Linked DNA regions of Homo sapiens. The protein of the gene in region 7 purifies or fractionates together with the protein of the main gene of each other region. This does not show direct contact. Each region holds a gene or a part of one and is shown on either strand. Other genes may lie near its edges.

Region 1 (3,500 bases), on a different chromosome or scaffold from region 7:
AGAAAACATAATGAAAGAAGTACCGGAGAGTATTTTAAATAGCACCATCATAGACATAAATACAGTCTTGTTATAGCTTTGAAAATGGGAAAAGCAGGAGAAAAAGTGTTTGATATCAGTTTAACAATTAATTAATAAAAAGTTTTCTGGAGTCTATAGTATTTAACGTTTTACAGCTATATTTCACTTTGTTTCTTTACTTACCTTGGGCTGCAATCATTTTCATGAAGAGATTCTCATTTACTAAGTATACTTTGCAGTTCTTTTACAGTATGATCATAGTTCTTCATAGATGTAATATGTGTAAATATATATACATGCAAAATACATATACTTTGATTTTCTTTAATTATCTTTAGTTAATAACTTGTTCTAAATTTGAACATTGTTAATTTTTAAAGTGGAAAATTTGGTCTTATAATTATTATAAAAATTCATCTACAGTTTTGTGGCTCATATGTCAGATAATCTTACATTATAGTTATGTATACAAAATAATTTTAGGCTATTAGAGGTTCATATTTATTTTTATATATCAACAGGGTTCTATACTATTTCTCTTCAGGGAGAAAAATATTTGAACTCACAACCTATTTATAAATCCTGTCTCCTTTCTGGCTTCTTTAGTTATTCAAGTTCAAAGGACATACCACATCTTTTAGGAGAGGCACCAGAGCACTTAGAGTACTAAATAATATCACAGGGGCTTCTACAAAGATGTGCTTTATTTCTATAGGATATCATATTAGTCCCTTTTCACGCTGCTGATAAAGACATACCCGAGACAGGGCAATCTACTTACAGTTCCATGTGGCTGGGGAAGCCTCGTAATCGTGGTGAAAGGCAAGGAGGATCAAGTCCCATTTTACATGGATGGCAGCAGTCAAAGAAACAATGAGGAAGCTGCAAAAGCAGAAACCCCTGATAAACCATCAGATCTCGTGAGACTTATTTACTACCACCAGAACAGTATGGGGGAAGCCACCCCCATGATTGAATTATCTCCCACCAGGTCTCTCCCACAACACGTGGGAATTGTGGGACTACCATTCAAGATGAGATTTGGGTGGGGACACAGGGCCAAACCATATCAGATATATAACAGTGTATACAGGGCCCACATTTGTTTTGTTTTTAATATATATAATATTCAAATAAACTGCCTTTAAGAGTTAACTACATTTTCTAAAACAAGGGCTATAAATATGTTAAATATAACTTCAGATATTTACTGAGATATATTGGGTTCATATTTGATTTGTGTATAGTTTTACAGTTTTTTTGTTTGTTTTTTTGTTTTTGTTTTTGTTTTTTTGAGATGGAGTCTCGCTCTGTTACCCAGGCTGGAGTGCAGTGGCACGGTCTCAGCTCACTGCAGCCTCTGTCTCCCGGGTTCAAGTGATTCTCCTGCCTCAGCCTCCCAAGTAGCTGGGATTACAGGCATGCGGCACCACGCCCAGCTAATTTTTTATATTTTTAGTAGAAATGGGGTTTCAGCATGTTAGCGAGGCTGGTCTTGAACTCCTGACCTCAGATGATTCGCCTGCCTCGGCCTCCCAAAGTGTTGTGATTACAGGCATGAGCCTAGTTTTACCGTTTTTAAATTTTAGTTTTATTCTTAGGTAATTCAGAAAATATTTTAGGGAAAATATATTATTGATGAAAAATAAGATGTACTATGGTTATTTTTCATGACTTTCGACTGAAAATACTTAGATTTTTGTGTGAAATTTCCAGTATTTAAATTGGCAGTGATAAGGCAGTTTCGAATCTTTTTAGAGCTCTACAGTAGTCGCATCTGCCCAGCAAGTGAAGACAACGCAAACTTCAAATGCTCCTGATGTAAATGATGCAATTGTGAAACTATTCAATGATTTTGATGTTAAGGAAACCTCCCATCATTTAGTGATTTCTCATCTAGATCTACACATATGTGATGACATTCATGCTAAAGAAAAAGGTAAAATAACTTGCTTATTTCAAACTATTTTGGTTTTTCTAGAATTGACTACAAAACTGGATTGTTTATTAAATCTGTTGTGTAGGATGTCCTGTAAGATAATTTGTCATAATTGTGTTCATATGAATATATAGATGAAAGGCACAACTGGAAGCATATATTGGTATGAAATTTTATTTTGCTTTAGCAGTACTTAAGCTTAATTATTTGTTAGCTATCAATGCTAACAATAAAATTAGCTTTAAAAAAATCAGACTGAATAGATGATCCTCTAGGAGGATGATGAAATATTAGACTCGCCTTTGAATTAACTTTTTGATAATGTTGAAATTGTCTCCAAATTAAATTTTAGTCCATACTTAATTCATAATTATTTGTAGATGTGTTTTCAGCATTGCAGTTTTTCTACCTATTTTGAATAGAAGCACAACTGTGCAACTATTTAACATATTTTATGGCCACCTCTCTTCCCATCCTTCCAAAATTTGATTAGGAAGCAAAATTCCAGTTAGGAATTTTCTTTTAGTTTTTGTCCCTGTTATTTTTCCTTATTTAGTAGATGTAGTTCTGTAATCTAGGCGCTGGGCGTTTTTGTTTCTCTGCTGGAGAGCATCCCTGGCCCAGAAGTGTTGGGGTTGAGTTCAGCAGGTAGGCCTACCTTAAGGACTATAATTCTCAAACTTTGGTGAGCATTAGAATCAGGCTGAAGACCTTTAAACAATAGAGTTATCTGATCTCTGTGCCTCAGATCTGAATCAGGATCTATATCTACAAAAATTTTTGCCATGTGTTTTTAAGCTGAGAAAGTGAATATTGAGACCCTGGATACTTAGCAGTAGAAGTTACCCTGCCTTCATTAGACAAGGCAGCCTAAAAGATTCCAGCCTAAAAGGTTGGAGGGGCAAAGGTGAGGAAGATTCGGGGTTTGTGGAGGGATTTGTTATCTTTTGTTCTGACTACCATTGTGTCATTTGACTTATAGTTGGCATCTTTTACTTTAGAGATTTGAAAGGAAAATCCAAAAAAGTTAGAACAAACCAAACTAAGAAAATGAGGTGGTCAAGATTAAGTAGTAAGAATGAGAATGGAGAAAGTGTTTTCTAAGGCCTTACATTCCTCACTATTCCCTGATAGAATAAATTGAATGATTTTATTTAGGAAGAAAACCTTTTCACCAAAATATCTCCTTAATAGTACAGGTCTGTAATCACTATTGTGAAATCCAAAAGGCTCTGAAATATTATAAGTTTGTGAAAAACTCATTTGGTGGCAAAACCTGACTTATGCCAATACTTTTTTTTATTCTTTGCCTGCTTCCTATAAATATTTATGTTTTGCTGCAGAATTGCTATTTTTATTAGTGCTGCCTCAGAACCTGCTGAGAGTGTTGCATGGTATATCCTGTATATACCGTATCATATTACTGTCGTGAAATCTAAACATTTCTGAATTCTGAAACATTTGGCTTTCCAAAGGTTTTACGTAAGGGATTGTAGACCTGTGCTGAAAATTCTACTAGTTGAGATAAATTGGATTTTAC
Region 2 (3,500 bases), on a different chromosome or scaffold from region 7:
TAATTGTAATTTAGGGATACAGGATGAAGCACAGTACGAGTCTTCAAATGTTGATAATCTCCAAATTGTTAAGACAGGTCTTTTGTCATATGTCAAAAGAGTACACCTTCTCTGGCACCTTGGGAGACTGGGACTTCAGCGAGGTACAGTTAGAATGACCGTGGCCACATTCCTGGACCGAAGTCGGCTGGGGACCATATTTAGAGGGTCTAGCATTGGCGGTGGGGGCCGGGGGTAGGTAGGGGATAGGGAAGCATAAAAACTCTAAAGCCTCAAACAGGGTGAGCTTTCAGCTAAAGTCAATTTCTCTATTTTCTAAGAAAAAAGAACCAAGATGAACAGGTTCTCTGGTAGAAGATGATTTTTCTGGAAGAATGCTGAGTTATTTTCACAACTTTGATAGTAACTCACTGAGCCTATCTATCAATGGCTCAACTACTCAGCCCTATTTTCACATCTGCAAAATAAGAGGCCTAGGGCTCCCAGGGTTCCACAAGCCCTTAGGTAGTGAAGGGGGACAGGCTAGTTTTATTATGTCAAAAAGTCTGCTGGAAATTTTGTGTAGCCCATCAGAAGAGTGCATTAGCTAAATATGTTCTTTATTTTGGACTGGAATATATAAATTCTGGCTCAAAAACTCTGAATCTTTGGGATATAATGTTTCCCCCTTTCAGCTCATAATGTCATAGAGATAGACACCAAGAAATAACACAGACATCTAAATTCTTCTGTCACTAGACTCAGCCTGCATCTTAAAACCGGCAGGTGACACGCAATTTCCCCCAGAGAACTCCGGCACCAGATCCATTGCTGAGTGGAACCACGTGCTTAGGTTGGAACCTTTTCCTTCTCTCCATGGCACAGCATGGGGGAGGAGAGTTTTTGGAGACCTCATGCTCACAGCCTTTCAGAACAGGACAGAGAAGCAATCTGTTCTGGAAGGCCTGGAGTGTGAATGCAGCGGGCCCCACACGTCACACATAGTCGTCCCTTACGTGTATTCCATGTCCTGACACCTTCTGTTGGCCTGCACCACCTCCTCCTCCTCTTGCCAGATGTGGGCCTCCAGCGAGCTCTCTCCGTAGCTGCCATTCCGTGAGTGGTTGATGATCGTGGTGTCCCTGGCAACACAAGGATATGCGTTTGATCATAGGAAACCTTCTTGCTTTGTCTCAATGCAAACAGACACAGAATGGAGAGGCTGGTGTTCATGCTGGAACAGAGATCAGCTCTGCATCTCGCATTGGCTCATGAAGCCTTTCCCTCCCAATTTCCCCAGCTCAGTTATCAATCTCATCTGATGCCCATACAGAGAAAGGTGTAAATGCTTGTGGAGAGGTGATCACAGGGTGCCGTGCTAAAACTCCACAAACTCCTTCACCCACTTTTCCTCTCCTGAATTCTGTCCAATTCTCTTCCTTAACTAGATAGAATTAAGCAGCATCTAAGGAAAACAAAATAAAATTCAAAAATCAAGTCCCCTCCCCCTTCTGACTACATTATGTATGTAGCTACATGGCATGTTATGAATATGTAAAATGGGCACCTAGAGATTTAATCTACTGACTTATGGACACTATTATTATTATTATTATTATTATTATTGTATTTGTTGGTGTTTCCATGCTTGTACTTTTTCATGCTTGTCCTATACCTCACTTTTCCAATCAGAGTTTAGGTTTTATTTCTGTTTATCATCCATACAGCATAGAATGCCTACTTCAGTATTTTACAGTAAAATGGGGGCTCAGTAAATACTTAAAACTGAGACTGGTCCTCTCAGAGAGTGAGGCTCCAAGCTGAAGTCTTCCTTCATGTTGTATTCTGTCTCACTTCTTGTTTTATGGGCCCTGCCTGGGATGCAGGTCAGGACAATGTAATAGGCATGCCAGGGTCCAGGACAGAAAGAAGAAGGCAGACACTGTCCTTGACAAGTTCAGGTGAGGTGGGTGCAGTGAGGGCAAGGGCAGACACGAGAAGATCAAGAAGCAGTTTCACTGCAAGCATCTGTCTGACTATAAACAACCAGTCACAGATAACTATTCCTGCCACTGGTTTTGACAATTTAATTACTACTAACTAACAATGATTAGTAAAAATAAGATCACTGCATCATCTAAGTGATATAGCTCAAGATGAAAGGCACAATAATGGCTCTGACTACATGAGTATTTAATTAGTAAGACATGATGTAGCCAAGTATTTCACATCTTTTAACTTCATATTCCAATGTACAATCATACTGAAAAACTTTTTTTTTTTTGAGATGGAGTTTCATTCTTGTTGCCCAGACTGGAGTGCAGTGGCGTGATCTCAGCTCACTGCAACCTCCACCTCCTGAGTTCAAGCGATTCTCTTGTCTCAGCCTTCCAAGTAGCTGGGATTACAGACATGCGTCACCACATCTGGCTAATTTTGTATTTTTAGTAGAAATGGTGTTTCACCACGTTGGTCAGGCTGGTCTCAAACTCCTGACCTCAGGTGATTCACCCGCCTCAGCCTCCCAGAGTGCTGGGATTACAGACGTGAGCCACCGCGCCCCGCCTGAAAACTTTAAAGCTTTTTTTTTTTTTTTTACAGAATAGCCCAAAACAGAAAAATAGAGGCCCCTTTAATGACAGCTATCAACATTAATGAGCATTTACTTCATACAGGGACTGGGTAGGGCACGGTACACATGGTCTCTCATTTAGTTCTCACAACTTGTGCACAAGGTATTATTATCCTCAATTTCTAGATGAAGAAACCAGGGTTAGGTGACATTTCCAAGAATACTCAGTTAGTGAATAGTGAAAATGGATTCTAACTCAGGTATTTATGACTCCAAAGTCCATGCCCCTAACCATCGCTCTATACTCCTGCAAGTTTCATATGTCTTTAAGAAGAAGGTCTCAGCAAAGATGAGTAAAGATAAAAACAAACCAGAGGGCATATGTGAGAATGTGGCTCAGAAAAGTGCAAAGTGTCATTGAAAATACACTAAAGGCCAAATGATGTAGAAAGCAAACAAAATGCTTTAAACATATTTGCAAAATTATAAATTCACACTATGGTGCACAAAATCATCAATATAGAAATTAGTGGCTAGAAACATTTTCAACAAATTTACTTTTGGAGACTTTACATGGAGCTGGAAACAAATCTGAAAATTCATGTTTACATTGCCAAGTAAGGAGAGCAAACACAATTAGAGGAAAGCAACTTAGATAGTAAATATATAAAACTCTGAAAGAAATATTACATTGCTTTGAAATTTTTAAAAATTTTCAAAACCTTCTGCACACATAAAAGATAAGCTGACTCTCTAAAAATTCTGACCAACACCATCAAGATGCATAAAGATGGGAAAACCAGTTGGTTTACAGAAGTTATTTTCTTTGTTTAAAAATCATTGATTATAAATATAAAGCATGCATCTGTGGTTGAAAAGTCACAAAACTAATGGCTGGAAATAGTCATTTTTACCAATTTGACTGTGGCCATTTAGCACCTAGTCAATA
Region 3 (3,500 bases), on a different chromosome or scaffold from region 7:
GCAACTCGAGAGGCCATGGCCCGCCAGACCGTAGTCTCAGACACAGAGCTGAGTATTGTTGAATCATCTGTGATCAGGTACAGTACAGTGTTTCTTGACACTGTCATTTGTGCCATTAGCATCATGTCTGGGAAGTTGACAAGTATCATCGGAAGGTGTCTATGGTAGCAAGTTGGACTCTGCTTTTGAACATACTTAGTTTCATCTTTCAGTACATACCCAGATTACTAAAAAGATAATTTTATCATTTTTAGTATTGTACTATACTGTTTGTTATAACTAATAACATATGCAGTAATATTCACCCATCAGCATCTAGTAGTAAATGTGCTCATTCCGAGTGCCCTTCTACTCCATACACTTCAGCTTCTGAAATTCAAATGAACATAGCATAGACATACAGATAGATCATATTATCATTTATACACACCAAAGAAAATGTGTTGGGAATCCTAAATTTGTGTATCATCCCCATCCATACCAATCTTACAGATAAAAGGCTTCAGAGATAATGTTGGGTCACTGTACAGCCTCCCTTCTGTTGAGCACAGTTCTATAGCCAAAATCTCTATGAATTTTATTTTTCTTGTGTTAAGTTTAGATCACCATTTCTCTCTGTGCAGGGTAAACTTCCTCTGATGTTGTGGCTGTTAAGGAGTGATTCATGTTTACCCATAATTAGCTGGGCAAATATTAGTTTCAGACTTTTAAAAAAATAGTTTTGGACCTCCTCTTAATGCGTCTGTACTTTGGGCAAGTTAATTAATTATGAGTATCACTCTAGGGGAAAAAAAAACATCTTTATCATATGTTTCACTATCCCAAAGCTTGCTGCAGGAGGCAGAAAGTAAATCTGAACTTAGTCAGAACATCTCTGCCCGGGAACATTTTGTATTTACCGATATTGATGGCCAAGTGTATCATCTCACTGTTGAAGGAAACTCAGTAAAAGACAGTGCTCGGATTCCACCAGATGTGAGTACAACCTTGATTAAATCTTCATCAAGAAGATTTTGTTTTGTTGGTTCCATATCCAGTGAAGGCATAGTTAAGTTGGAAACTTCAGAAAAGCCTAATGTAAATAAACTTTATTTAAGGAGATATTATCGATTAAACTTGTTCCATACTGCTAGAGAATAACGCTGTAACTATTTTGATTAAATGTTTACTGTGTGCTACTCATTTTTATCCCTGTAATAATCCATGAGGAGTTATCTCCATTTTACCCATAACAAAACTGTGGGAGAATAAGTAACTTTCCCAAAGTTATCCAGCTTACTCATATGGCAGAGCAGTGTTTTAAACTCAGGCCTGTCTGACTTCAGTATCTGTCTTCTTTCCATTTCAGGCATTACCCTGAAGGATTTGACTTACAATCTAGTATTATTTTTGGATAATAGTAATCAGGTTGTAAGTGTAATAGTATTATTAACATTTACTAACTTACATATATTCTTATGGCCTTGTGGAATCTGTAACTAAAGTTTTGCCATTAATCATTTGTGTCAGCATGCATCTCATAGATAGTTTTTAATAGATGGATCATGAAAATGTTTATGTTAATTAATGCAGGCTATTATAATGGTTAAATGAAGGCATGAGGGGATTTTTTAAAATAGGTATATTTATTTTAAATTGCTATCTAAAAATGGAATGCTCTAGTAGAATGCCAACCCCCATAATTTTATAGGTGGCTTTGGGGTCTCATAAAGTTACAATCTAGATGTTGGCTGTGGCTACAGTCTTTTGAAGTGTAATGGGACAGAAGGATCTATTTCCAAGTTGGCTGCCTCACAGGCTATTGCACATTAATGCTGGCTGTTGACGAGGGACCTTAGTTCTTCATGTCGATCTTTCCATAAGGCTGCTTGAGTGTCCTCACGACATGACAACTGGCCTCCCCTAGAGTAAGTGATCTGATAAAGCAAGAAGGAAGTTGCAGAGTCTATTATGACCTGGTTTCAGAAGTCTCTTCAAAGGCAACTTCTTAATTAAACATTCTATTTTATGGCTAGGAAAGTAGATATCTTAAAATGTTGCTTCATATTATATACAGAATTTCATTTCTTTAATATTTTTTTTTATTAATGGACTTTATTATAATATTGATTTTTAAATCCAGTTTTTGTTTTGTTTCTTGACTATTACCAGAGTTTTTACGGTATTCAGTGTGTGTGCTAGTCCACTAATGGTCAATTATTCAAACCACTAGAGTTTTCTTACTTTTTACCATGGATACCATTTGAATTTTTATGTTGTACAATAAATGCAAAAATAAAATTTCTTTTAATAAATAGAGAAGTAATTGAGCAGTAATATTATTTAATAGCTAACATGTATTGACTATTTACTGCATGGCAGGCATTGCTTTAAGGCCTTTGCCTTTATAAATTTATTAATACTAGCAACAACTCAAGTTTCATGAACTTACCCTACTTTATGGACAATAAATCCAAGACAGAAAGGTTAAGTAAACATGCCTCAAATCACATACCAGTTTCAAGCTGGGATTCAAGCCCAGGCAGTGTGACTGCAGAGCCCAGGCTGCTGAGCCCTCCATGATACCACCTCTGAGCATCTATTAGAACTGCAAGTTCCTTTCTTCCTCCAAGTTAGATTGACTACAGCAGCATTTCATTCTTATGTTGTGCTTCTATATGTAACTTCTGAGCAAAGCTTTCTGTGAATTTAAACTGCATATGCCTTTAGTAAACAGCATCTCTTCACCTTCATGATTCCACAATGTTCCAAAACGTGTCAGTGAAGCTCTGGATCCTTTTTTCAATAGAAAAATCACGGCACAATTAGTTATAAAAGAGCTTTAAGTTTCCCTTGGAATGGATTTAGTTATCCTTTTGCAGTGAGAGATAAGTTTGAGTTGGCTCTCTGGAAAACCTTCCCTTTACTTCTCTGTTTTTCTTACTTTAATTTCCCCCTTTTTTTTTTGAGGTATTTGTTCCTCAAAAGACATCCCCTCTCTTTAAATCTAGTTCCAGTAACTACTTAATGTCTATGAAGTTGAAATCTCCTATTTCTTCATAGTTGAAATTGATAGGCAATGTAGCTCTTTGTTAGTGTCTAAAGTCTGTTTTAGGATTTGATGACTAAAAGCATACTAAAGCACAGCCCTTTAAATTAAGTTTTATTAAAATATTTATTATAATGTCTTATACAGCATAGTGAAATTTATATTTGTTTGTTGCTGTTGTTTTCTAGGGAAGTATGGGTAGTATTACCTGCATCGCTTGGAAAGGTGATACATTAGTGCTTGGAGATATGGATGGAAATTTAAATTTCTGGGACTTGAAAGGCAGAGTATCCAGGTATAAGCCAAGAATGAAATCTTGTTATTTCATTAAAAAAAAGAAATGAAATCTTTTTGTTTTGTTTTGTTGAGATGGTGTCTTGCTCTGTCGCCCAGGCTGGAGTGCAGTGGTGCAATCTCGGCTCACTGCAAGCTCTGACTCCCGGGTTCATGCCATTCTCCTGCCTCAGCCACC
Region 4 (3,500 bases), on a different chromosome or scaffold from region 7:
TTAAAAGTTTATTTTTTAGATGAACCTGACATTGCAAACATACCAATTTTTTTTTTTGTTATGAGAATCTGAATATTGGCTAGGTTTTTTTTTTTTTTCTTTTTTTTGAGATGGAGTTTCGCTCTTGTTACCCAGGCTGGAGTACAATGGCGCGATGTCATCTCACCGCAACTTCTGCCACCCAGGTTCAAGTGATTCTCCTGCCTCAGCCTTCCTGAGTAGCTGGGATTATGGGCATGCGCCACCATGCCCGGCTAATTTTGTAGTTTTAATAGAGACGGGGTTTCTCCATGTTGGTCATGCTGGTCTCGAATCCCCCCTCAGGTGATCCACCCGCCTTGGCCTCCCAAAGTGCTGGGATTACAGGCGTAAGCCACTGGTCGGCTAGTTTTTTTTTTTTAAATGAGGAATTATAATATTAGGACCCATTAAAATTTTCTGGTAAAAGTTAACGATAACATTGAAATTGTCCACAAATAAAATGTGTAAGATTTAAATGAGGCTGGGCGTGGTGGCTCATGCCGGTAATCCCGGCACTTTGGGAGGCCAAGGCAGATGGATCATGAGGTCAGGAGTTCAAGACCAGCCTGACCAACATGGTGAAACTTTGCCTCTACTAAAAATACAAAAATATAGCCGGGCGTGGTGGCACACACCTGTACTCCCAGCTACTCAGGAGGCTGAGGCAGGAGAATCACTTGAACCTGGGAGGCGGAGGTTGCAGTGAGCCAAGGTGGCGCCACTGCACACCAGATTGGGCAACAGAGCGAGACTCTATCTCAAACAAACAAACAAAAAAAGATTTAAATTTTAAATAAATTCAAGGCTTACATGGTATGTTTGTTGCTAGAGAGGATATGTTAGAATCTGTGTTAGATAACCAAAATTACAGCTATTTTGACATTAGTTTGGTTTTGACAGTGTTAATGCAAACTTGTCAGATTAATTGATTGTCAGCATATGTCATAGTTTTATTTTGTACTTGTTGCAAGGGAACTAGCTTTAAAGGAAGTTAGTTCAAAGATATTTTCAGAAAAAGGATCTTTACAGAATAAAAGGGGAGGTTATGGTTACTATTTTTGTTAGGTACAAGTTAAAGGATAGTTACAGGGTTGGTTATACTTTGCTGCCCCTTAATCAGCCATATGATTATAAAGCCTGTCTTAAAAGATGAGGCTGTTAATCCAATATACTATCGATTATTACAGACAACAACGGAAGTCTGCTTTAAACAGGCTAACAAAATATTTTCAAATGTATTAACAAATAAAGGTAGATCACCTGATTTTTGTCTTCTCTGGGTTTGAGACAATTTTTCATTTGTCAATACTGTGATAATTTCTATTAAAAAAAGACAAAGTTTAATTTGTTTCATTAGCAGGAATATGACAAATATTGATGGTACTTCCTGATAAATAAGATTCATATTTACAAAGCTTTTTGGCTACCTGTGATTTCAGTTTTTTCCTGGTAGAATTATTTTTTCCTCCTTGGATTTATGTTTCTAGCTTTCTATTTGTCTTGGTGTACGTACTAAAAAATAATGCTTGAATTAGGGATCATTTGGCTTCAAGGACAGGCGTTGTAGGGATTCAGCTGTTTTGGGTTGAAGAAGAGTGACTAGACCTTGTGTGAATGGGAGAAACGTTAGGAATCTGAGAAGCTAGTCTCTCAAGCTCTCGTTCTGGTGATAAATGGTTTCTTGTCTCAGCATCTCCTTCCATGTCTGCTTCATCTCCCTTTCTCACTTCTCCCTTCCAGTTCTGTTTGTATTGCCCTGGTTTTTCATAGTCTCTGCTTCTCTGACTGGTAAGTGGATTTGATTTGCCATGGTGTTGACTTGAACTGTTCTTTCAACTAGAGTTTACCTGTTGATGGTGACAGTGTGTTTCTTTTAGTTCAGTTGGCAAGAGAGAAATCTGAATGCATTGCATGACCACCATGACTTAAATGTCTATCCTTATCCCGTGACCTTGGTGGGAGGTAGCGTGGAAAGCACCTTTTATATGAGGCTTAAGCTTTTAGATGCTTTTTATGAGGAGGGTTCTCTTGTTGGTGTTGAACAAGGCACTCAGTTAAACATGTCAAGTCTAGCAGTGCGTGATGAGGTACTTTGTGGGATACAAAGATAGGTTGGATTTAATCCTTTTCTGCAAGGATCAGTTTGCTGGAAATAGCAAAAGACTCCTATAATTTAAGATTTGCTTTTTATTCTAGTCACCTCAGGCAAACCAGAAAGATGACAAAGTAGGACTATAAGAACTAGCTAGGATTAAGGAAGGAGAATGAGAGGTAGCCCTGGATACATGAACGTACTATCTCTACAGTTTGGATCACTAACCTACTAAGCATGAAAGTATCTAGAAGCCATTGTATCAGGATCCTCATTGCTGCTATCAAAGACTATCCCTTATTGAATAAAGAAGCTCTTATTCATATCAAGTAGACATTCTTTTGTCCCATCATTAAGATCTAGAGACATCTTAGGAGAACTCATTTCATCACTACTCTAGGAACTGGAACATTCTCATAGGCACCCTCTATCTATATAGTGACAACTGTTCTCTTAGCAAATGTCATTCATCCCTGACAAGAAAATTTGTGCCTTCTTTCTTTAGAGACAATAAGCAGGAATTCAAATAGTTGAGTCTGTAGTAGTGAGCATCTTGTTCTCTGCAGATCTGGCAACAAAAGAATTGACATACTGGGTCAATCCAATGTCCAGTCAACACCATAGGTGATATTTAACAAAAGCTCCATGATTTCAGGGAAAGGAACTGGAGCTTTTTATTCCTATGTCAGTATTGGAGTTTATATGGACTTCAGAGCTAAAATTTCCATATCCAAGTCTTTATTATATTACCAAACCAGGGCCAAGATTTTTAGAAATAAGTACAAGTCAAGGATAGGCAACTAAGGAACCTAGAAGATTGGAGTCAGATTACAAAGCCACAGGAGATAAATAGTTGGGGAGTCACAGAGTTCTAAGCACTTAGGCTACAACAGAAGGAAACAGTGATCTCAACTTTTGTGTTGAAGAATTGCCTGGAAAAAGTATTAAAATTTTAGTTTCTGGCTGGGCGCAGTGGCTCACACCTGTAATCCCAGCACTTTGGGAGGCTGAGGTGGGCGGATCATGAGATCAGGAGTTCAAGACCAGCCTGGCCAACATGGTGAAACCCTGTTTCTATTAAAAATACTAAAACATTAGCTGGGCATCATGGCGCGCCTGTAATCCCAGCTACTCGGGAGGCTAAGGCAGGAGAATTGCTTGAACTGGGAACTGGGAGGCAGAGGTTGCAGTGAGCTGAGATTGCGCCACTGCACTCCAGCCTGGGCTACAGAGCAAGATTCCGTCTCAAAAAAAAAAAAAAAAAATATATATATATATATATATTTTGTTTCCTGAGTTCTACCCCCAGATTCCTAAAATCTGAGATGGGCCCAGGAATATATATCCTTCATAAGTATATCAGGTAATTCTAATTGGTATAGTCCTC
Region 5 (3,500 bases), on a different chromosome or scaffold from region 7:
GTCAGCCCCCCGCCTGGCCAGCCGCCCCGTCCGGGAGGGAGGTGGGGGGGTGAGCCCTCCGCCCGGCCAGCCGCCCCGTCTGGGAGGTGAGGGGCGCCTCTGCCCCGCCGCCCCTACTGGGAAGTGAGGAGCCCCTCTGCCCGGCCAGCCGCCCCGTCCGGGAGGGAGGTGGGGGGGGTCGGCCCCCCGCCCGGCCAGCCGCCCCGTCCGGGAGGGAGGTGGGGGGGTCAGCCCCCCGCCTGGCCAGCCGCCCCGTCCGGGAGGGAGGTCGGGGGGTGAGCCCTCCGCCCGGCCAGCCGCCCCGTCTGGGAGGTGAGGGGCGCCTCTGCCCGGCCGCCCCTACTGGGAAGTGAGGAGCCCCTCTGCCCGGCCAGCCGCCCCGTCCGGGAGGGAGGTGGGGGGGTCGGCCCCCCGCCCGGCCAGCCGCCCCGTCCGGGAGGGAGGTGGGGGGGTCAGCCCTCCGCCCGGCCAGCCGCCCCGTCCGGGAGGGAGGTGGGGATGTCGGCCCCCCGCCCGGCCAGCCGCCCCATCCGGGAGGGAGGTGGGGGGGTCAGCCCCCCGCCCGGCCAGCCGCCCCGTCCGGGAGGGAGGTGGGGGGGGGTCAGCCCCCCCGCCCGGCCAGCCGCCCCGTCCGGGAGGTGAGGGGTGCCTCTGCCCGGCCGCCCCTACTGGGAAGTGAGGAGCCCCTCTGCCCGGCCAGCCGCCCCGTCCGGGAGGGAGGTTGGGGGGTCAGCCCCCCGCCCGGCCAGCCGCCCCGTCCGGGAGGGAGGTGGGGGGGGTCAGCCCCCCTGCCCGGCCAGCCGCCCCGTCCGGGAGGTGAGGGGCGCCTCTGCCCGGCCGCCCCTACTGGGAAGTGAGGAGCCCCTCTGCCCGGCCACCACCCCGTCTGGGAGGTGTGCCCAACAGCTCATTGAGAACGGGCCAGGATGACAATGGCGGCTTTGTGGAATAGAAAGGCGGGAAAGGTGGGGAAAAGATTGAGAAATCGGATGGTTGCCGTGTCTGTGTAGAAAGAAGTAGACATGGGAGACTTTTCATTTTGTTCTGCACTAAGAAAAATTCCTCTGCCTTGGGATCCTGTTGATCTGTGACCTTACCCCCAACCCTGTGCTCTCTGAAACATGTGCTGTGTTGTCCACTCAGGATTAAATGGATTAAGGGCGGTGCAAAAAAAAAAAAAAAAGAAATTTAGCATTTAATTTTAAGCAGAAACTCTGCCCTCAAACCTTATTAATCAGACTATGACAGGAGTAAAACACAAGAATGGTGTTCAACATTCTTGTGAATGATTCTTTCTTTTCTCATCCAAGATTGATGAGAAAAACCTCCACCCAAGGTATCAAAAGTTTAATACTGATTCTGTTCTCCTCTCTTTTGAATACATAAACTAGCTAGATGACAATATCATTCCACTTTTTACTATTATCTGTCAGCTGTCAATTACAACAACAACCCCAAAAAAATTAAATCTTGACAGACATCATTGTTTCAGATGCCTCTGGAAGAGAGAGGAGAGGGAAAAAAAAATTGTTGGAAAGTTCTTTACAGCCCTGTGAGACTAAGTAAAAGAGACCTTATCATTATTCAAAAGGTAGAGTTCTGGAGAAAACAAAGACCTAAAATAAATTAACCTAGACAGAAGAAAAAGACTTGGGTGATTTAGTAGCAGTACTGCCCTCAGTGACTCAATGTTTGCAATAAGGAATGGGTAGTATCAGCTTTCCTGATACATAAAATATCACTTGTATTATTTCCTCTTCAATGAGCAAAGAGAAGTAATAACCTGGCATCACAAAGAAAAATAAATTATCCACATAGTAACTTTCTGATAAACTCTTGGCTGTCCAGCAGAAGGCCCAGCTGGGAAGAAAGTGCTGTGGACTACAGCTTGGCTCCATCCCACGCCAGCCCTCTGACCCTGGGGCTGGATCGTCTCTGGATGAGGGGGTTGCTCAGGTGATCTCTAAGGGCCTGCTCACCTTAAAGAATTTACAAATGTGAGATGTTTTAATTCGGTCTTTAAACTTACTTGATGCTTCCTGGGAAACAGCCCCATTTTAGTGGTGATGGAAATTATCTCTACAGAGAACCTTAGGAATGATACTAGTTCTGTCTTACAACTAGCATAAACAGGGGCAGATCACCAAGTCGGCCCCAAAGGGCCTGTGGCTTTGGCTCTGGCTCTGGCTCTTCTCTCTAAACCAATGCTACTCAACTTTGCCCCACAGGGGACATTCAGCAATAGCTAGAGACATTTTTGGTTGTCACAACTTGGGAGGCAGAAGGTGTGCGGATTCTAACAAAAGTCTGGGTCCCTACCATTATAATTTTAAAACCATTGCATTTACAGAATTATCCCACTTGGGCTTTTTATGGCAGTATATTCATACCTTGGTATACCACACACAGCAATGGAAAAGAAACTACAGACTACACAGAACATGGATGAATTTCACAGACATCACAATGAGCTGAAGAAGCCAGATACAAAAAGAAAAAAAAAAAAGCACCGTATGACTCCATTTATATGGATCTTAAAAACAGAAAAAATGAATCTATGGGACTAAAGATCAGAATACTGGTTATCCTTGGGAGTGTAGGGGGAGTGCTGATTGGGAGAAAGCACAGCAGAGCTTTTCGGGTACTAAGGACTGAACTGTATTCTCTCAGAATTCCTGTGTTGAAGCCCTACCCCACAATGTGATGCTATTTGGAGATGGGGTCTTTGGGAAGTAATTAGACTCAGATGAGGTGACGTGGGTGGGGTCTTCAGGATGGGATAAGTGCCCTTAGACACACCAGAAAGCTTGCTTTCCTCCACCTACCTCTCCCCACACATACACATCAAAGAAAGGTCTTGACTACACACTGAGCAGCGAGGAAGAGGGCCCTCACCAGAACCCAACTATGCTGGCATCCTGATCTCGGACTTCCAGCCTCCAAAACTGTGAGGAAATAAATTTCTGTTTAAGCCAGAACAACAGATATTTTGATATTTTATTATGGTGATCTGAGCTGACCAAAGTACCAGAAATGCTTTATATTTCAATATGGACAGTGGTCACATAAGTGAATAAATGTGTAAAAATTCCCTAAGCTGTATACTTAAGGTTGACTCACAGTTTTTTAGAAGGAATAGCAAGAAACAAAGCACTGACTTAGCAAGAAACAACCTAGCATTACCAAGGTGAGAGTTGGGAGACTTTTCTACTTTTCATTTGATTCCCTTGTCAGGGCAAATTCTTTTCCATGAGTATATGTGATCTTACATAATTTTTAATAACTTGTTAATTTTAATATTGCTCTAAATTCCCTACTTCACAGTGTGTGTCTCACCACTGCCCTTGAAGACTCAATGGCAATGACTGTCAAATCCACACCTGCCCCCGTGCACTCAAACTCCAACCGTGAGTTTCCAGGCACCACTGGTGCATCTCCTCTCAAGCACATAACTGTCACACCCACCATGTCTCCAAATGCAGTTATCCACCCCCAACTCC
Region 6 (3,500 bases), on a different chromosome or scaffold from region 7:
ATGCTGAGTGACATCAAATCTGTTTTATATGGATGAAAATTTATTCCTATTTTAAAAGACAAGTAGTAAAGAATATTCTCTTGATGTAACCAACCTTAGCTAGGCAGCAGAGCTGCATGCTGATGGAAAAATCACATTTTTTTTTTCCTCCTAACAAGGTTTAGTCTGTCCCCAGGCTGAAACAGAAAAAGTGGCTTCTGTGACTAAGAAACATAACATTAAAAATATGCAGTGTTGATGGTAGAAAAGGGGGCTTTTAATATGGAGAATTTTTATTCTGGTTTTTTATTTTTTCATTTTAGATTTATGCATAAATTAAATAAAACTTTAAAGATTTTGGTTTTGCAGGCAAATATAATCTTATGTTTATAACTTCTGCCACTTACCTTAGAAATGAGCATAAAGCCATTGATTTGTATTCTTGCCCACTCATGTTAAACTCTAAAGGTCTAGGAAGGAACCCAATTTTGTTTACACCAAAATCCCTTTTCCCTCTACTCTGTAGAAGGAAGTCATCTCGTGCACTCTGCTGTTCAGCCTCATTTATTTCCTTCAGAGCACAGCACATAAAGTACTGTTTGTTTCCTTGTTGCTGTTCTCCTTCACCATCCAACTGTAAGTCGTATGAGGAAGGGACTACAGTTTCCCTCACCACTGCATCCTCAGTTCTCACAGTACTTGGAACATAAGAGGCATTCAATAAATGGAAATTTTTGTCAAGGATTTCTTTTTCTTTTTTTTTTTTTTTTTTGAGATGGAGTTCTGCTCTGTCCCCCAGGCTGGAGTGAAGTGGTACGATCTCAACTCACTGCAACCTCCGCCTCCCAGGTTTAAGCAATTCTCCTGCCTCAGCCTCCCAGGTAGCTGGGATTACAGGCATGCACCACCACACCTGGCTAATTTTTGTATTTTTAGTAGAGACGGGGTTTCACCATGTTGGCCAGGCTGTGTCAAGGAATTCTTTATGTCACGGTGCAAGGTGGAGGAAAGGCCAAGCAGGTTGGATCTGGAGGGCTAAGTTTTAGTCTATTTCTTTGCCTGTTTCTGCATCTAGAAATGGAAATTTTATCTGCTTTACCTTTAGGGTAAAAATGAGATCATGAATAAACATGTTTAACATAAATTATACAAATGCTTTGTGGTATAATTTTGAAAACCAGGGTTTGCTTGAATTTGAGATGGGAAATTTTATTAGAGTATCATAACTGTTTTAAAGTTAACCTCTTAATAAGACATTCATTCTAGTTTTTAATGCAATTGTGGCACAAATTTTCTTTGTACCTTTACTGGAAAGTAGGTATTTAAAAATGTTATCATTGGAGGGATTCACTTTTAGGAAATTGTAGGGTGAAACCACGGTTTCAGTTAATCCTCCCCAAAATGAAAATGCCTTAGGGTAAGTTCACAGATAATTGTTATTTTCTACGTGTAAATGTGCCACTTAACTACCTTAGTCCCTTATTAAGATTTTGATAAATACTATGGTTTTCATAATTAGTGTAATTTGTCTTAGAAATTTGAAACTCAACATTGTATAGAAGGAAAAAGTAAATCCTTAATATGTAGAATTTCTATTTTGTTTTTTAATTTTCTGTTTCAGATTAATGGTTTTAAGAAGTACAGCTTTACTTTTGCAAAGGTTTTGGTTCTACAGGGAAATTATAATCTTATGTTTGTTTATAACTTCTGCTATTTGATTTAGAAATGGGCAAGATGTCATTAACTTGCATTCTTTTTCCCTCAAGGTAAACTGAAGGTCAAAGAAAGGACAACATTTTGTTTAAATCAGAATTCTCTTCATGTACTTTCTAGCAATAGATAGATAGATCCATAAAGATTTGTTTATGTTCGTATGAGAAGTTTGAACTTTTTTCTTAGCAAGAACATTTTCATAAGATATATTTTCCATGATTAGAGTATAAATAATGCTGGGAAAAGACAAATTTGGTTGTTGTGAACAGTTATTACACAAAATCCATTAGTTCTGAAACCTTTATTAAATTTTATCACCTATCAGAAGTAGTTGTTTAGAAACCGGCTTGTTAATGGAGAATCAATGAAGTTGCACTTAGTTCTGGCTACAGCTTTGAGGGACCTGACTGTGGACACTGCCATTTAGTGGCCTCCACATACGTATGTGTGACTGAGTTGGTAGTGACTCTCTCTAGTTATTTGGTACCTAGCTCCCATATTCCATACTTAAAAGTGTTTATTTTAATACTTTTCTGTAATTAGTGAAGATACAAGGATTGCTGCTACATTTATGAAGTATGTTTCAATACAAGTTTTTATTACTTTTGGAAAAATATATTTCTAAAACTAACATATCATAATTTTTACTGAGTTAAATGCCATATATCTTTCAGAGGATCATAAAACAGGAGTTGGGGCAGTCATTTGGGCAGAAGGGAAATCTGTAAGTATGAAAACAATTCTTTAAATATTTAACCTGGATTTTGTTTAAACATAGTTCAGTCTTCGGTGCATTACAGGTTACTGACTGCCAAGGCGGGCAGATCACAAGGTCAGGAGATTGAGACCATCCTGGCTAACACAATGAAACCCCATCTCTACTAAAAAAAAAAAAAATACAAAAATTAGCTGGGCGTGGTGGCGGGTGCCTGTAGTCCCAGCTACTCGGGAGGCTGAGACAGGAGAATGGTGTGAACCCGGGAGGCCGAGCTTGCTGTGAGCAGAGATCGTGCCACTGCACTCCAGCCTGGGTGACAGAGCGAGACTCCGTCTCAAAAAAAAAAAAATATTAATATTTTTGTAATGGTGCATTTATGAAGATCTATAAAGATTTGCTCATCCCTCAACAGTTTTCTAGATAGACGCATTCATTCAGCAAACATTTGTTAAACACTCTCTACAGGTTAGGCACTGTGCCACAGTGAATGCTGGGGATTAAAGATCACATTTTATGGCCTCATAGTTTAGTGATGGAGATGTAGAAGTAAAATATAACTGATATGTAAGTGTAATTATAACTGATATCATGAGAACATAGAGGAGGAACCTTTGCTTGGAAAAATAAGTAAATACTGTTGGTGAATATTATTAATGTTACTAATATAATATTCTTGAAGAATAAGATAATTTCTTCAGACAGAGCAAGTCAATAGGACCAGGAGGATAACATGAATATTCTTGGTGAACATTCTTTTTTTTTTTTTTTTGAGACAGAGTCCCCCTCTGTCACCCAGGCTGGAGTGCAGTGGTGCAATCTTGGCTCACTGCAACCTCTGCCTCCTGGATTCAAGTGATTCTCATGCCTCAGCCTCTTGAATAGCTGGGACTATAGGCATGTACCACCACACCTGGCTCATTTTTGTATTTTTAGTAGAGATGGGATTTTGCCATGTTGACCAGGCTGGTCTTGAACTCCTGGCCTCAAGCAGTCCACCCTCTTCTGCCTCCCAAAGTGCTGGGATCACAGGTGTGAGCCACCATGCCTGCCCTGAATATTCTTAATATTAATATTAATAATGTTAAAATTC
Region 7 (3,500 bases):
TGACTAATTATATCATAACTCATTACTTTAATAGACAATGAAGCCTAGTTTAGTCTTTATCCTTGGATATTACTGTTGGAAAGAATTCCTCTGTAATTTTCCAAGTTTTACATTGTTGTAACATGTCATTTTAACATAGCACCAAGTTTTGTTCTCCACATTTTATAAATGAGAATCTGAAGCTCAGAAACACTGAGTGTGTTGAAGTCCCAGCAAATTAGTAGTAAAACCAGAAGAAAAACTCCAAGTGCCTAGTTCATTTTGTTAATTGCTTTTTATCTTTTCTTGACCATGGTATGATATAACATACCATGACGTTATACATTTTAACGGATAACTTATATTTAACCATTAACTCTGTAATATTTTAATACATTTCAGGAAAAATGTAGTTGATATCCTTATCTTCACTTTTATTAATTCTATGATAAATTAGCCCATTCAGGGAATGAGTATTTTAGGAAAATAAAATTGTTTTATGGCCTCTCAGCTGCTGCTTTTTCTTTGAAACATTCTAAATAATAATTGTAACATCAAAAGGGATAGTTTGAAGTTTGTTTGGTGCCTTCACACATTTAACTCGCATTTAGCATTCTACGACATTGTGAATTATATGGGTTGGGTGTCATTTTCTTTTCAGTGGAAGCAATGGTGTGCAGAAATAGTGGCTGCCGTAGGGTCTGTGCTGGTGAAGTCCCTGCCTTAAAAGGGTCTGATCCTGTGGTCATCTTGAATGTCTTTCATTTTGGCCTCTACTGTACTGCTTTAATCCCTTACCATTCTAGATTAGATCCCTTTCTTTTGAGACAGGCTGGAGTCTTGCTATGTTGCCCAGGCTGACCTTGACCTCTTGGGCCCAAGTGATCCTCCCACCTCAGCCTCCTGCATGGCCGAGACTACAGTCACAAGCCACTGTGCCTGGCTTTAGATCACTTTCTTAGTAACATGCAGAAGTATCCACTTTATATTTGTTGTTCTGTATCTTATGGGCTTCTTTTTGGAATTCGTTATGAGGTTAAGAGTTTAGATATCAAAAGACATTGAGTCACAACAGTTTCGGTTTTCCTTCGAGAAAAAAGATTGCATGCAACTTTATATATATTCAAATGTAATATGTACATTCATATATAATTACATATTTTATGTATACTATACATATACATACATATATACTCCTATCTAATTCATGTATATATGTTTTCATATGTATGTGAAAGTTGACTGGTTTAACTTACATAGTGATCTAGATGAAAAATGATAAATCATTTTTATATTTGTTTCTATGAAGTGGAAATCCTAGGTTGGTTTGCGTTTTTTTTTTGCAGAGAGCAAAAATGTTGGAGACACTGGTTGGAAAATTGAAATGCTGCATTGGAGAAGAGAGCGATAGTCAAAAGTAATTTCCTTCTCTAACGTGGATATCCAATTAGTAAATTTATTTAAGTTTTCTATATTAGTACTTAGTAAAGTGACATTAATCACTTAGAAAAAGCAACATGATTGCTGACATCAACTTGGGTGCTTATCTTTGGAACTAGTGCTTATGTTCTTTACTTGCCCAGATATGCTTTAAAAAAAAAAATCCTTCGAAATTTAAATGTCAAAAGCTTAATTGACCTTGCTCTGAGGGATCTTAATATTTTGATTCTGAAGCACATTTTCAGGAATGTACAGAGGGGACAAAAGCTCTCTTTATCATTTTGCAGCTTTGGAGCTATGGAGTTAATTGAAGGCATACGAAAAATTAAAGAATGATTTAACAGCTGCTTTCTTAAGCTTTTGTTGAGGAGTGTTATTGGTTCTAAAGTTTCACTGATTGTATGAACTGAGTTCTTGAATACTTGAAGTTGAGTGACTTCTCTGAGGTTTCAACATGGGAGTCATCTGGGATACTTTCACACGAATTCTTGGGCTCTCATGCCCCCACCCATTCTGATTTTAATTCTCTTGGTCTGGGACCAGGGGATGGCTAGTTTTAAAATGCTGCTCAGGTGATTGTAGTGTGTGACCAGATTTGAGAATCATTGATTAAGTAGATATCAATAGCTGACATGGAGCTGATGCAAAAAAGAGAATAGAGGCTGTTACTAATCATTTATAGGGAACTCAAGATTGTAACTTTAGCATTATTTTGCCTTTTGAAAGATTCCATGTAGCTGCTTTGCAATATTATTTTTAAAGCTTTTGCTACTTCTTTTTGAATAAGTATATTAACTTCATTTTACAATGAATGAAACTGAGGATCAGAGAGCTTAATTAACACATTGAAGGTCATACAACTCTAAGGAATGGAAGAGTATTAGAAACAAGCTCTGATTCCAAACCTATGCTTTTCATAGTGCTATGTTTGCTACCATGGATTATACTGAATGGCTAAAAATGATTTTTATTTAAAGTGGCCTTATAAAAGCATTATCTTGATTCTTTTTAAAATTATGTTTACATTTTATATTTAAAAACTATAAATTTCAATGCATATAAAATGTCTAGCATTTAAAAGGAGATTAATTATTTGGCTTATGTCTTCAAAGTAATGTGTAACATATTCCTGTGTATGGTATGATGTAATTTAACTCATAGTAAACTGGCAGTTTTTTTCATCATATGACAAAGTCTATACTTATTTTTTGATATTAGGCAGCTATTAAATGTATAACAATATTTCAAAAGTAGGATTTTTGATTACTGAATAACAAAAATGAAATTATTTATTAAAAATGCTATACTTGCCCTTCAAAATCAATTACCTCTACATGAGTTAGAGGATATTGAATAACAATATTATGACCTTATATTTGTACTGAAACGCCAGATGTGTTAATATAATAATAAATGCCAAACTTCATGTTATTAAGACAACTACTTTTAATTAATCAGTCAAAAACTCCTGAACTCTTACTTTATATAAAACATATTTTTCTAGGTACTGGGAAATAGGCTTCTAATCTTAAGAACTTCACTACAGAAATTATATGTATCTGTAGGAATAAAATGAACATGATGTTAGTGTATAAATGGTACTTTGTTACTGGCTTAAAACATTATGTCTATGCTTAGAATTTAAAATGCAACAGCCTAACTTATGGGTCAGCAAACTATGTCCTGAAAGTCAAAACAGCCCTCTACCTGCTTTTTTATCCCCCTTTTTCTCCATTGTGGTAAAATATGCATAGCATAAAATTTACCATCTTAGCCATTTTTAACTGCATGGTTCAGTGGTGTTAAGCACATTCATATTGTTGAACCATCACCACCTTCCATCATTATAACTCCTTCCATCTGGCAAAACTGAAACCCTATACCCATTAAACAATAACTTCCCCATTCCACTTTCTCCAGCCCCTGAAAACCACCATTCTACTTTGTCTCTGATTTTGACTACTCTAGGTACCTCTTACAAGTGAGATCAAAGTCTGTCTTTTTTTGACTGGCTTATTTCACATAATGTCATACATGTTGTAGTATATATCAGTACTTTATTGCTTTTTATAGCTGAATAA

What was found.
Region 1: the proteins of COBLL1 (region 7) and BLTP3B purify together in Homo sapiens (affinity purification with mass spectrometry, with the first as the bait; one large-scale study listed by BioGRID). This does not show direct contact.
Region 2: the proteins of COBLL1 (region 7) and AMOTL1 purify together in Homo sapiens (affinity purification with mass spectrometry, with the first as the bait; one large-scale study listed by BioGRID). This does not show direct contact.
Region 3: the proteins of COBLL1 (region 7) and WDR11 fractionate together in Homo sapiens (co-fractionation; one large-scale study listed by BioGRID). This does not show direct contact.
Region 4: the proteins of COBLL1 (region 7) and HMBOX1 purify together in Homo sapiens (affinity purification with mass spectrometry, with the first as the bait; one large-scale study listed by BioGRID). This does not show direct contact.
Region 5: the proteins of COBLL1 (region 7) and NUP93 fractionate together in Homo sapiens (co-fractionation; one large-scale study listed by BioGRID). This does not show direct contact.
Region 6: the proteins of COBLL1 (region 7) and CDADC1 purify together in Homo sapiens (affinity purification with mass spectrometry, with the first as the bait; one large-scale study listed by BioGRID). This does not show direct contact.

The regions. Positions count from the first base shown.
Region 1 is NC_000012.12:100,087,375-100,090,874, reverse strand, and holds part of BLTP3B (bridge-like lipid transfer protein family member 3B), read left to right. Parts: intron 1-1,779; coding exon 1,780-1,960; intron 1,961-3,500. UniProt on the Homo sapiens protein: Tube-forming lipid transport protein which mediates the transfer of lipids between membranes at organelle contact sites. Required for retrograde traffic of vesicle clusters in the early endocytic pathway to the Golgi complex.
Region 2 is NC_000011.10:94,862,356-94,865,855, reverse strand, and holds part of AMOTL1 (angiomotin-like protein 1), read right to left. Parts: intron 1,122-3,500; coding exon 996-1,121; intron 1-995. UniProt on the Homo sapiens protein: Inhibits the Wnt/beta-catenin signaling pathway, probably by recruiting CTNNB1 to recycling endosomes and hence preventing its translocation to the nucleus.
Region 3 is NC_000010.11:120,885,862-120,889,361, forward strand, and holds part of WDR11 (WD repeat-containing protein 11), read left to right. Parts: coding exon 1-77; intron 78-827; coding exon 828-975; intron 976-3,216; coding exon 3,217-3,323; intron 3,324-3,500. UniProt on the Homo sapiens protein: Involved in the Hedgehog (Hh) signaling pathway, is essential for normal ciliogenesis.
Region 4 is NC_000008.11:28,896,895-28,900,394, forward strand, and holds part of HMBOX1 (homeobox-containing protein 1), read left to right. Parts: intron 1-3,500. UniProt on the Homo sapiens protein: Binds directly to 5'-TTAGGG-3' repeats in telomeric DNA. Associates with the telomerase complex at sites of active telomere processing and positively regulates telomere elongation.
Region 5 is NC_000016.10:56,736,629-56,740,128, reverse strand, and holds part of NUP93 (nuclear pore complex protein Nup93), read right to left. Parts: intron 1-3,500. UniProt on the Homo sapiens protein: Plays a role in the nuclear pore complex (NPC) assembly and/or maintenance. May anchor nucleoporins, but not NUP153 and TPR, to the NPC. During renal development, regulates podocyte migration and proliferation through SMAD4 signaling.
Region 6 is NC_000013.11:49,271,925-49,275,424, forward strand, and holds part of CDADC1 (cytidine and dCMP deaminase domain-containing protein 1), read left to right. Parts: intron 1-2,366; coding exon 2,367-2,416; intron 2,417-3,500. UniProt on the Homo sapiens protein: Catalyzes the deamination of cytidine and deoxycytidine into uridine and deoxyuridine, respectively. May play an important role in testicular development and spermatogenesis.
Region 7 is NC_000002.12:164,835,324-164,838,823, reverse strand, and holds part of COBLL1 (cordon-bleu protein-like 1), read left to right. Parts: intron 1-3,500.